Linked DNA regions of Homo sapiens. The protein of the gene in region 1 interacts with the protein of each later gene in a biochemical or structural test. Each region holds a gene or a part of one and is shown on either strand. Other genes may lie near its edges.

Region 1 (5,506 bases):
TACTGTATAACCTTTTAAGAAACAACTGCTGGCTCTCCATCTACTCACTCCTTTTTTTTGTTTGGTTTAACATGTGTCTAATCCTGTAACAGGGAAATACAGAGACTCACTTCTTTTTGCAAATCACAGAAATTACAGAAATTCATATCACACTAATGTATCTGAATAAACACCTTCACTTCTCAAATAATCAGCAGCAGGTTCTATGATACAGACTAAATCTACATCTTTTCTGACTGCAACTATCAAGTTTACTGAAGACAAAAATGCTACATATAGTTTGGCCAGCAAAATTCATAGTGATGAAATGAGTCAGATGACTGACACCTATTCAGATGACTGACTAGAAAATGTGAGATCTAATGTTTCAGGTTACTGTCCAAATTCTCTTTGGTAACTGTTAAGGATAGAGAAGCTATAAAATAGAGAAAAAAAGAAGCACAGGAATTTCATGATATTGATAGCTGGGCACACAGGCAAAGAAAGAGAGAAGTAATTATACAAATGTCTGCTAATATGAAAAGTTTACAATATTATTATGATTTAAAATACAAAGAATACATACAAAGTTTCTCCAGCAAAACAACATAACATTTCATCCTAATTAGAGCATAGAATGTCATATATAATTACATTTATATAGGATTTATCTGAAGAATAAAATGTAAATATTTACTATGCTTCTCACTTTATAATTCATAGATGGTAATAACGTCTATTTGACCTGTGAATCTGAATCTTTTCTCTATGTTTTAAGGTAACCAACATTTCCTTGATTTAGTAAAAAACCAAACACATGTAAAAGAGTACATCAGAAAATTCTTTTTGTTCAAATTCTCAGTTATTTCAGGTCAACTTTGAATAGATTCCATAAAATAATCATTTGTGGAATACCTTCTCAAGGCAAAGGTATCATGATAGGTGGTATGGGGTTGGATATAAAGATGGAAACTAGACTGTGTATGTCCACAAAGACATTACAACCAAAGAGTGTGAGCCCTTGAATTACCTCAAAACCCCTAGGTCAGATCAGCTAAGCACATAACACAAGTATAGAGAGCCATGAGGGTTAAAGGAAGTTAGAGGAAACAAGAAAAGTTTGAAGGAGAAAACAGAATTTGAAACAACACACACACCTAAATCCCATACACACACAGAAACACAGGCCTAAATCCTAACAATGGGGCTGAACCAAGTGGGAGGAAAGAAGCCAGTACACAAACATGTGCTAGTGAAGTGAGGGAATAGGAAAGGAGGTGTGAGAACTGAGATACTGGGCCGGGCGTGGTGGCTCACGCCTGTAATCCCAGCATTTTGGGAGGCCAAGGCGGGTGGATCATGAGGTCAGGAGATCGAGACCATCCTGGCTCATATGATGAAACCCTGTCTCTACTAAAAATACAGAAAATTAGCCGGGTATGATGGCACGAGCCTGTAGTCCCAGCTACTCGGGAGGCTGAGGCAGGAGAATTGCTTGAACCCGGGAGGCGGAGGTTGCAGTGGGCTGAGATTGTGCCACTGCACTCCAGCCTGGGCGACAGAGTGAGACTCTATCTCAAAAAAACAAAAAACAAAACAAAACAAAAAACAAACCTGAGATACTGTCGCTTGTGCTCTATCGACATTGTAGTTGAACAGTTCGCTTTAAGCAAATGCTGGATTCTTTAAATAACAACTTTTCTGAGAGTCAGATTTAAGTATTTGGTGATGATAAACTATGGTCATGTTATAGCTTTCAGCTAGCCCTCATTTCTATACTTCATTCCAAATTCCAGCCATCTTTGGCATTTAAAGCCAATAAAATTCTCAGATCACAGGAAAGGATTGAGGTTAGGGGCTGTAGTTCAATGACAGACACACAACGTAAGTGTCTGCCATATGCTAAGAACCCCCAAGCTAAAGTATCTCATTTAATCTGAATTACGAGATAGGAAATACTTTGCCATTCATTAAAAAAAAAAAAATCCAATAGCATTTCAAAAAGCAACATTATTATAAATACATATATATGATATGTAGACAGATGGCTAATTACCTCATGATCATGAGTGGCCTGCCGGGCTGCATCTAAAAATATAAAAGAATAAGAGAACATTACATTTAAAAAGAAAGCAATAACAAAACCCAAGTATACGACTCTGCCAAACTATAAAACCTGCTTGTATATGTAGATTCTCATAACATATGATATTTTTCCTTAAGGCTTTATTAATCGGTCAGCCAACAAAAGTAAGGGAACCCCATGCCTACAGAATTCATAATTAGGCATAAGAGAAACAGCAGACACAGTTCTTAACTTTAGGGAGAAAAGGGTGGAAGAGTGGACAGAAGACACAAACCAAAGACTACTTATACAACATCTATAATTTTAGCAGGCTAGATGCCCAAGTATAGAGAAGATGCAATGGCTAAGGAAAAATAGGCTAGTTGTGGATGGTGCTTCAAAAATGACACATGAAAGGCTTAGAAGTGTTAAAGGGAAGTTACTGATATAATTTTGTAGATAGGCTTGCTTACAGGCAGAGAAATGCCTAAACTGGGAATCAGGAAAAGAAGGGCAGGCAACTAACAGGGGTCTCGGAGGACAAGTCAAAATCATTGATAATAGACACGGAAACCCAGTTGAAATTTCTAAATGAGAGCAATGTGATTTTAATAAAATTTCAAGATAATGCTTGTAAGTGAATACTGGATAGTGGAGAAAAAACAGAAACACATCTTTTATAGTTACCACTCTTAACAGTTGGCTTTATGACACTCCATCACCCACAACAAACTACAAATACATTTGGTTCTGGTTTTGATACCTTGCCTATGAGATTTGCCTTTCTGACGGTCCTGGGTTTTCCTACTGAAGACCTTGTAGGCCTCTGTTTTCTGATACTGTTCCAGTTCCTTCATGTAACGCTCCTTATCTCTGTCTGCTTCATCAAGGTAGCGCTAGGAAAGAAATACAGAATTATTTTCAAGAAAATGAGATCCTATTTAAATAAAATTAAATTACCTATTTGAAGAAAACAGGACAATTAGAACATGGGAAGAAAAGAATATAGGGAATATGCCTTAAAAAAGAATCAGAAAAACAAGAGTTGTATGAATAGAATAAAATATAACCTCTCAATTATAAAAGTAAATAGGTCATTATGAGTTTTTAGAATATTTATTGCCTTTTCTAACCTAATGAAGACAAGTTCTATTGAGATCATTCTTATAAAAAATTCATGAAGATGATTAGAGTTATTCTTCTAACTCTATAGATAGAACTCTATATGGCCACTAGAGTCATCCTCATGAGATGTGCACACCACATAGGCACACTTAGTCTTCCCAAGGGAAGGAACAGAATATTACTTTGTTTTGCTGTCTCCAGCCCATTTTGAGGGGATGATGTCATACATCAATTGGCCCTTTAAGAGCCAGGAGGTTGGAGCAATGAAGCTGGGAGACACAAAGAACATAAAAATAATGACCTCATCCTATGGACCTAAAAATGGACTACTCTGAGAGAACCTATATCTACATGCTTTGATTGCTTTGTGCTATTAATTATTTAAACAAAGTTCATTGATCTACCAGGATTATTTTGTTTAATGCTTTGCCCTTTTCATTCATCAAAATGAAGTATAAGAAAGTATAAAAATACTGCTTCTAAATGAACAGAAAACACACTCAGAAATTATGTTAAACACTTTGTCCCGCGTAAGAGCCAGATGTAGGGGATACTCAACTGGCCAAATCTGGTACAATTTAAGCACCAAAATAATTAAGTACAGTAATAAATTATAAACTAGTAGAAAAAACTTCATACTATTATTAGTATGATTTATAACAGACACAATACCAATGATTTGTTACCATACAAATACAATAAATGGGTGTAGAGGCTGAGCGTGGTGGCTCACGCACGTAATCCCAACATTTTGGGAGACCGAGGTGGGTGGATCACTTGAGGTCAGGAGTTCAAGACCACACTGGTCAACATGCTGAAACCCCATCTCTACTAAAAATACAAAAATTAGCTGGGTGTGATGGTGCACGCCTGTAGTCCCAGCTACTTGGGAAGCTGAGGCTAGAGAATCGCTTGAACCTGGGAGGTGGAGGTTGCAATGAGCCGAGAGTGTGCCACCGCACTCCAGTTTGGGCGACAGAGCAAGATTCCATCTCAAAAAACAAACAAACAAACAAACAAACAAATAAATAAATGGGGGTAGGGGGTCGGGCATGGTGGCTCATATCTGTAATCACAGGATGTTGGGAGGCCAAGGCAAGAGGAGGACTGCTTGAGCCCAGATGTTTGAGTCCAGCCTAGGCAACAAAGTGAGATCCCATCTCTACAAAACATAAAATAATTAGCCAGTTTTGGTGGTGTGTGCTACTTAGGAGGCTAAGGTGGGAGGGGTGCTTGAGACCAGGAGGTCAAGGTTGCAGTAAGCCAAGATCTTGCTTAGATTAGAATGCTGAAGGCTACCTGGTAAATGTAAAGGGAGTGCTGGAGTTGGAAAAATCATCACGTTGTAACCATAATGATAAAGATTAAATCAGGCAAAAATAATCAATGGATGCTAAATCTAGGGGAAAATGTTGATGTAAAACAGGCTGTTTGTATGTTCTTAAATCGTCTCCCCATAGATTACTTATTAATGACAAAGGAGAATTTAAATAATGTACCAGGTAAGCAAAATTAACATTACTAGTGAGAAACAAAAGGACATTGTGTGCCTGCATATGTGACATATTGAGAACACACCACCACCTATGCAAGTAATCCCACCAAGAATGCGCAACCTCAATCTAATCACAAGGAAACATCTGAAAAATACACAATGAGCAATGTTCTGTTAAAGGTAAAAGCAGCGGGGGAAGCAGAAGGGAACTGTATTTTAAAAAAATATCAATGTTATAAAAGAAAAAGAAAGATTATGGAAATATCCCAGTTTAAGCTAAAGAAACTTGACTACTAAACACAAAACCTGACCCTAGACTGGAACCTGTTTTGGAAGGGAAAAATGTTATAAAGAAATGACATTCAGTCAACATATAGATGACAGATTAAAGCACTGTTAATGAAAAATTATGAAATTGATGACTACACTATGGTTATATAAGAAAATATTCTTTGACATACACACTGAAATATCCTGGGGGTAAAGGGCTACAATGTATATAATTTATCCTCACATGATTAAAACAAAATTTTGTGTGTGTCTGGGTGTACACATGCAAGTGTGTGTGTGTGTGTGTGTGTGTGTGTGACAGAGAGAGAGAGAGAGAGAGAGAAAGACTGAGCATGCAAAAGTATAAGAAAGACTGAGCATATAAGTGCATATGCAAATGGAGAAATGGAATAAAATGTGTTAACAATAGGTGAATCTGGGTAAAGAGTGTTGGGATGTTCTTTGTATTATTTTTATGTTTGTAACTTTTTGTGTATTTGAAATTATTTCCAAAAAAAGTTAAAAAAACAAAAACAAACACAAAACCTTTGTCCTACGTAATAGTGGTTATC
Region 2 (4,539 bases), on another chromosome or scaffold:
GTACCTACTTTTCCCATCTGACAGTCAGGTTTTACCTTCCAGGTGACAAGGTCAGTCGATCACCAAGAGCTTCCTCATTTCCTGATCCTGGGATAGGTAGTTGGGATACAGGAAGTAGATACAAGTAGAACACAAAAGATGACCCTTTGACTGGAGAAGTTTATGATCTAGTTAATAAAGCAAGACCAGGCCAGGTGCGGTGGCTCACGCCTGTAATCCCAGCACTTTGGGAGGCTGAGGCGGGTGGATCACAAGGTCAGGAGTTCAAGACCAGCAGGCTGGCCAACATAGTGAAACCTCATCTCTACTAAAAATACAAAAAATTAGCCAGGTGTGGTGGCAGGCGCCTGTAGTCCCAGCTACTTGGGGAGAATGAGGCAGGAGAATCACTTGAACCTGGGAGGCAGAGATTGCAGTGAGCCGAGATCACACCACTGCACTCCGTCCTGGGCAACAAGAGTGAAACTCCATCTCCAAAAAAAAAAAAAAAAAAGACCAAAAATGCAAAATAAATAGATCAAATGAAGTGGCAGAAAAAGCTAATCATAAAACTTTCAGCATATAAGTATAATAAGGGTTTCTGAAAAGGAAGAGATTGTTGTGGACTAGAATAGCCAAATGGTTTTGTGGCTTCATGGAAGAATAAAACCAAGAAGGGAAGGTGTCAGCAAAGGACAGTAGTGCCTTCCTAGTTTCATTATATATCGAACCTGCTTAACACATGACATCTGGGAAGAGCTGCAGGGAATGATTTTCACGTATGATGATCTCATCTAATCCTTAACACTGTGAGACAGATTCGAATATCCCCATTTTACCCATGAGGAAATAGGCTCAGAGAGATGTTGTTCATGTAGCTGTTAAACGGCAGAGATTTAGGCCAGACGTGGTGGCTCACACCTGTAATCCCAGCACTTTGGAAGGCCGAGGCGGGCGGATCACTTGAGGCCAGGAATTCGAGAGCAGCCTGGCCAACATGGTGAAACCCTGTCTCTACTAAAAATACAAAAATAAGCCAGGTGTGGTGGTGCATGCCTGTAATCGCAGCTACTCGGGAGGCTGAAGCAGGAGAATCCCTTGAACTCAGGAGGCAGAGGTTGCAGTGAGCCAAGATCACGCAACTGCACTCCAGCCTGGGCAACAAAGAGAGACTCTGTCTCAAAAAAAAAAAAAAAAAAAAAAAAAAAGGCAGAGAACTGGGTCTTTCTGACTCCAAACTTCGTGCTCTTAATCTTCATCCTTCTATGTTATACTGAACAGAAAACAAAATTTTCTTTGGACATTTGAGGGTGAGCTGTTCTTTCTGTTGTGCATTAATGTGTTAGTTGCTGGATTCCTCCTAAACATCAGCTCCTCAAGGCAGAGATTTTAGTCTGTTTTGTTCATGTTGTGTTCCAGTGCCTGGTGCTTAGTAGGAGGTCAATAAATGAACAAATCAAAGGAAATAAATGGGGTGATGAGATAGAGAGTACCTTATCGGGGAGAGAAATGCAATGGCTGGTCACCCCAAGGAGGTGAAGGTAGGGAGAGCAGGAAGCATGAGGAGGAGCCAGCAGCAGCCCTCCCAGGGAGGAATTCTGAACAAGGCTCGGGGGAGTGAAAGAACCTGCCAGCTGATAAATGGCACAGCCTGAGTTCAACTCCAATGCCCATGGTTTAGTCTGAGCTGAACTGGTAGACTAAGGGAAGTGGAGTGGTCTTACTTAAGGAAGGGTAGAAGCCAAGTGGGAGATACAGGTAAGGAAGCTGTGACAAGAAAGGGAAACCTACAGGACAGTGGGTCTGGAGCATTCTTGGCCCATAGGGGCTGGAGTGGCTAAGACAGGGTCGTCTTTGGAGTCTCACGGGGCAAGGAATTTGTCAGCAAGGACCCTGAAATTGCTGAGGAAGAAACTGGGAGAAGAGGAAGAAGATTCTGCAGATTCTGAAATCGTCTAGTGAGTCTGAGCTAGGCCTGGGAGGAAGTGGACAGCAGCGCCAACGAGTTGATGAGAATGACATATGTGGCACGGACACCAAAAGGTCAGACTAGGCTGGGCATGGTGGCTTACACCTGTAATCCCAGCACTTTAGGAGGCTGAGGCAGGGGGATCACTTGATGCCAGGAGTTTGAGACCAGCATAGGCAACATAGCAAGACCCCATCTCTACAAAAAATAAATTAGCCGGATGTGGTAGTGCACACCTGTAGTCCCAGCTGCTTTGGAGGCAGAGGCAGGAGGACTGCTTGAGCCCAGGAGTTTAAGGCTGCAGTGAGCTATAGTCACGCCACTGCATTCCAGCCTGGATAACAGAGCAAAGCCCTATCTAAAAAATAAAAATAAAAGGTCACATTAGAGAGCAGTAGTGTTTCAGACATCCAGGAATGCTTCATAGAAATGTAGAAACAATTGACTTACCCACACAGACAAGAAAGAAGGCAGGAGGGCAAAAGGTGAAGAGATACACAGATAAATTTACACTGGTGTAAACACATGCTGCAAACACGCGCACACACACGCACACGCACATGCACATGCACATGCCAACCAAATCCTAGCATTCATGTGGAATGTTCCTGGCTGAAGACATAACAGCTGCATCTCTGGCCTCCCTTCACCTGCCCCTCCCTTCCCCAGTAGCTTTTTCCCATGGCCTCTCCTCAGTCCTTTTCACTCCACCAAAGCAAACCTAGGACTGCCCCAGCCACTGAGGCCTTGCCCTGGCCACGAACTCTAGCCCTTATCCTGGTTCGAGTCTGAGTGTGGGCCATGCCTCACATGGGAATCAGACTGGGTTTCCCTTGCCCAGCCCTCCAGGCCCCAGGGTGCTGTCTCTGCACCTGCACTCCCCTGTCCACATCAAACTGGGTTTCCCTTGCCCGGGCCTCCAGGTCCCAAGGTGCTGTCTTTGCACCTGCACTCCACTGTCCACATCAGACTGGGTTTCCCTCGCCCGGGCCTCCAGGCCCCAGGGCACTGTCTCTGCACGTGCACTGCCCTGTTCGCATCAGACTGGGTTTCCCTTTCCCGGCACTCCAGGCCCCAGGGCACTGTCTTTACACCTGCACTGCCCTGTCTGCATCTCTTCTGTCTTTCTGTGCCTCTTGCCCTTAGAGCTCCTTGTCTGTCTTTCAGTGCATATACCAGAATGTCTGTATGTCTATGTGAAATCTTTTTGTGGGAATGCCTGAATTTTTACGTATGTGACTTTCTGGTGTCATCCCTAAGGCCAAGAGTGTTAAGAGTTGGGGTGAGAGATGGTAGAGTTTTTTATGTTTGGCTCTCCACATTATATAGGTTCTAGGATATGTCCCTGAAACTACAACGTAGCTCATACATGGGCATTTTTATAAGACTAAGTGTTTTTATGGGTGGACCTCCTGATTCTCTGCCATGAGCTAGGCCTGAGATTTTACAGACCTAGGACTAACTGCAGTCACCTGGACACCAGAGATCTGTAACTGTCAACCGTAAAGAGAGAGAGTATATTTGCTTCTTTGGGGTTGAAACCATACTGACGTAATATAAACAGAATTTGGTCAGCACCATCAGGCAAACATAGTCTGCTCGATAAGGAAACTGTGAGAGTCAAATGGAACTTTTGAAGAATCTAGACCAAGCTGAACTTCCCTGCCATATTCACCCCTGCCTCACGCCTCTCCCTGTTCACCCCTGGCTGGCTGGCTGCATCCTGGGGAATGCTTCTGCTCCATCGGGGTACCCTTCCTCCTCTGCATCTCCTCAAGAGAAGTGTAACCAAGACACATAGAAGAAGCACAGACTAACACACCTTCCCCCATAGTACATCATCTCCACCCTCCACAGCCTCATGTTATGCTCCTGTGTCCTTCACAGTCTCCCCTCCCATACCCTGCCATCCCGGTGTGGGGGCTGTAAATCCAGTTTGCATCCATAAAGAGCCCTGGTGCAAGGCTGGACAGCAATGGCCCTCAGAGAACAGAACAGGCTCAGGAGGGGCCAGGCAGTGCTCGAGCCTCGGGTGAGCAAGCGCAGGGCTTTTCAAAGCAGACCATCTGCAGGAGGGGGACCGCCCTCACTCAAGGCGCAGTCATGTTCCCTTGGGGAACTTTCAGAGCTGAGTGGGCTTTGCCCCCCTCATGTAACTGCTCCCTGGATTTAAGGAGTTTTGATTCCATTTTTTAATGACTTTCCTTCTCCTGAGAAGCATCTGTCTCCATGGCTGCCTCGGGTTGGCTACAGTAGTAGAAAGTATGACTCTACCCTGCTGTCATACCTGGGTGGGAAAAGTCAACAAACGAGTAACGGGAGAAGCAAGGAAGCCCCTGGGGTGGGTTGGTCAGGGAAGCCCCTTTGAGATAGTCTGGGGCATGAGAAGACCTGGCCGTGACCTCAGTGTGTTGTTTCTGCCCATGCTGCCACAGGTTAGCAGAGGAGCCGGACACAGAGGAAGCTCAGGTGAGTACAAAGAGTCCTCTGCCTCCCCACGGCCCCTCCCTCCTTCCTCAGCATCTTCCCTTCCCCTCCCTTCCTGCAGTCACAGGTCCCTAGCCAGGGCAGTCCTAACAGGTGAAGATGCA

What was found. The genes of interacting proteins can lie anywhere in the genome.
Region 2: the proteins of HMG20A (region 1) and DTNB form a complex in vitro, tested with the Homo sapiens proteins (one study listed by BioGRID).

Annotation. Positions count from the first base shown.
Region 1 is NC_000015.10:77,468,344-77,473,849, reverse strand, and holds part of HMG20A (high mobility group protein 20A), read right to left. Parts: intron 2,941-5,506; coding exon 2,808-2,940; intron 2,068-2,807; coding exon 2,036-2,067; intron 1-2,035. UniProt on the Homo sapiens protein: Plays a role in neuronal differentiation as chromatin-associated protein. Acts as inhibitor of HMG20B. Overcomes the repressive effects of the neuronal silencer REST and induces the activation of neuronal-specific genes.
Region 2 is NC_000002.12:25,379,168-25,383,706, reverse strand, and holds part of DTNB (dystrobrevin beta), read left to right. Parts: intron 1-4,383; coding exon 4,384-4,388; coding exon of another isoform or gene 4,389-4,417; intron 4,418-4,539.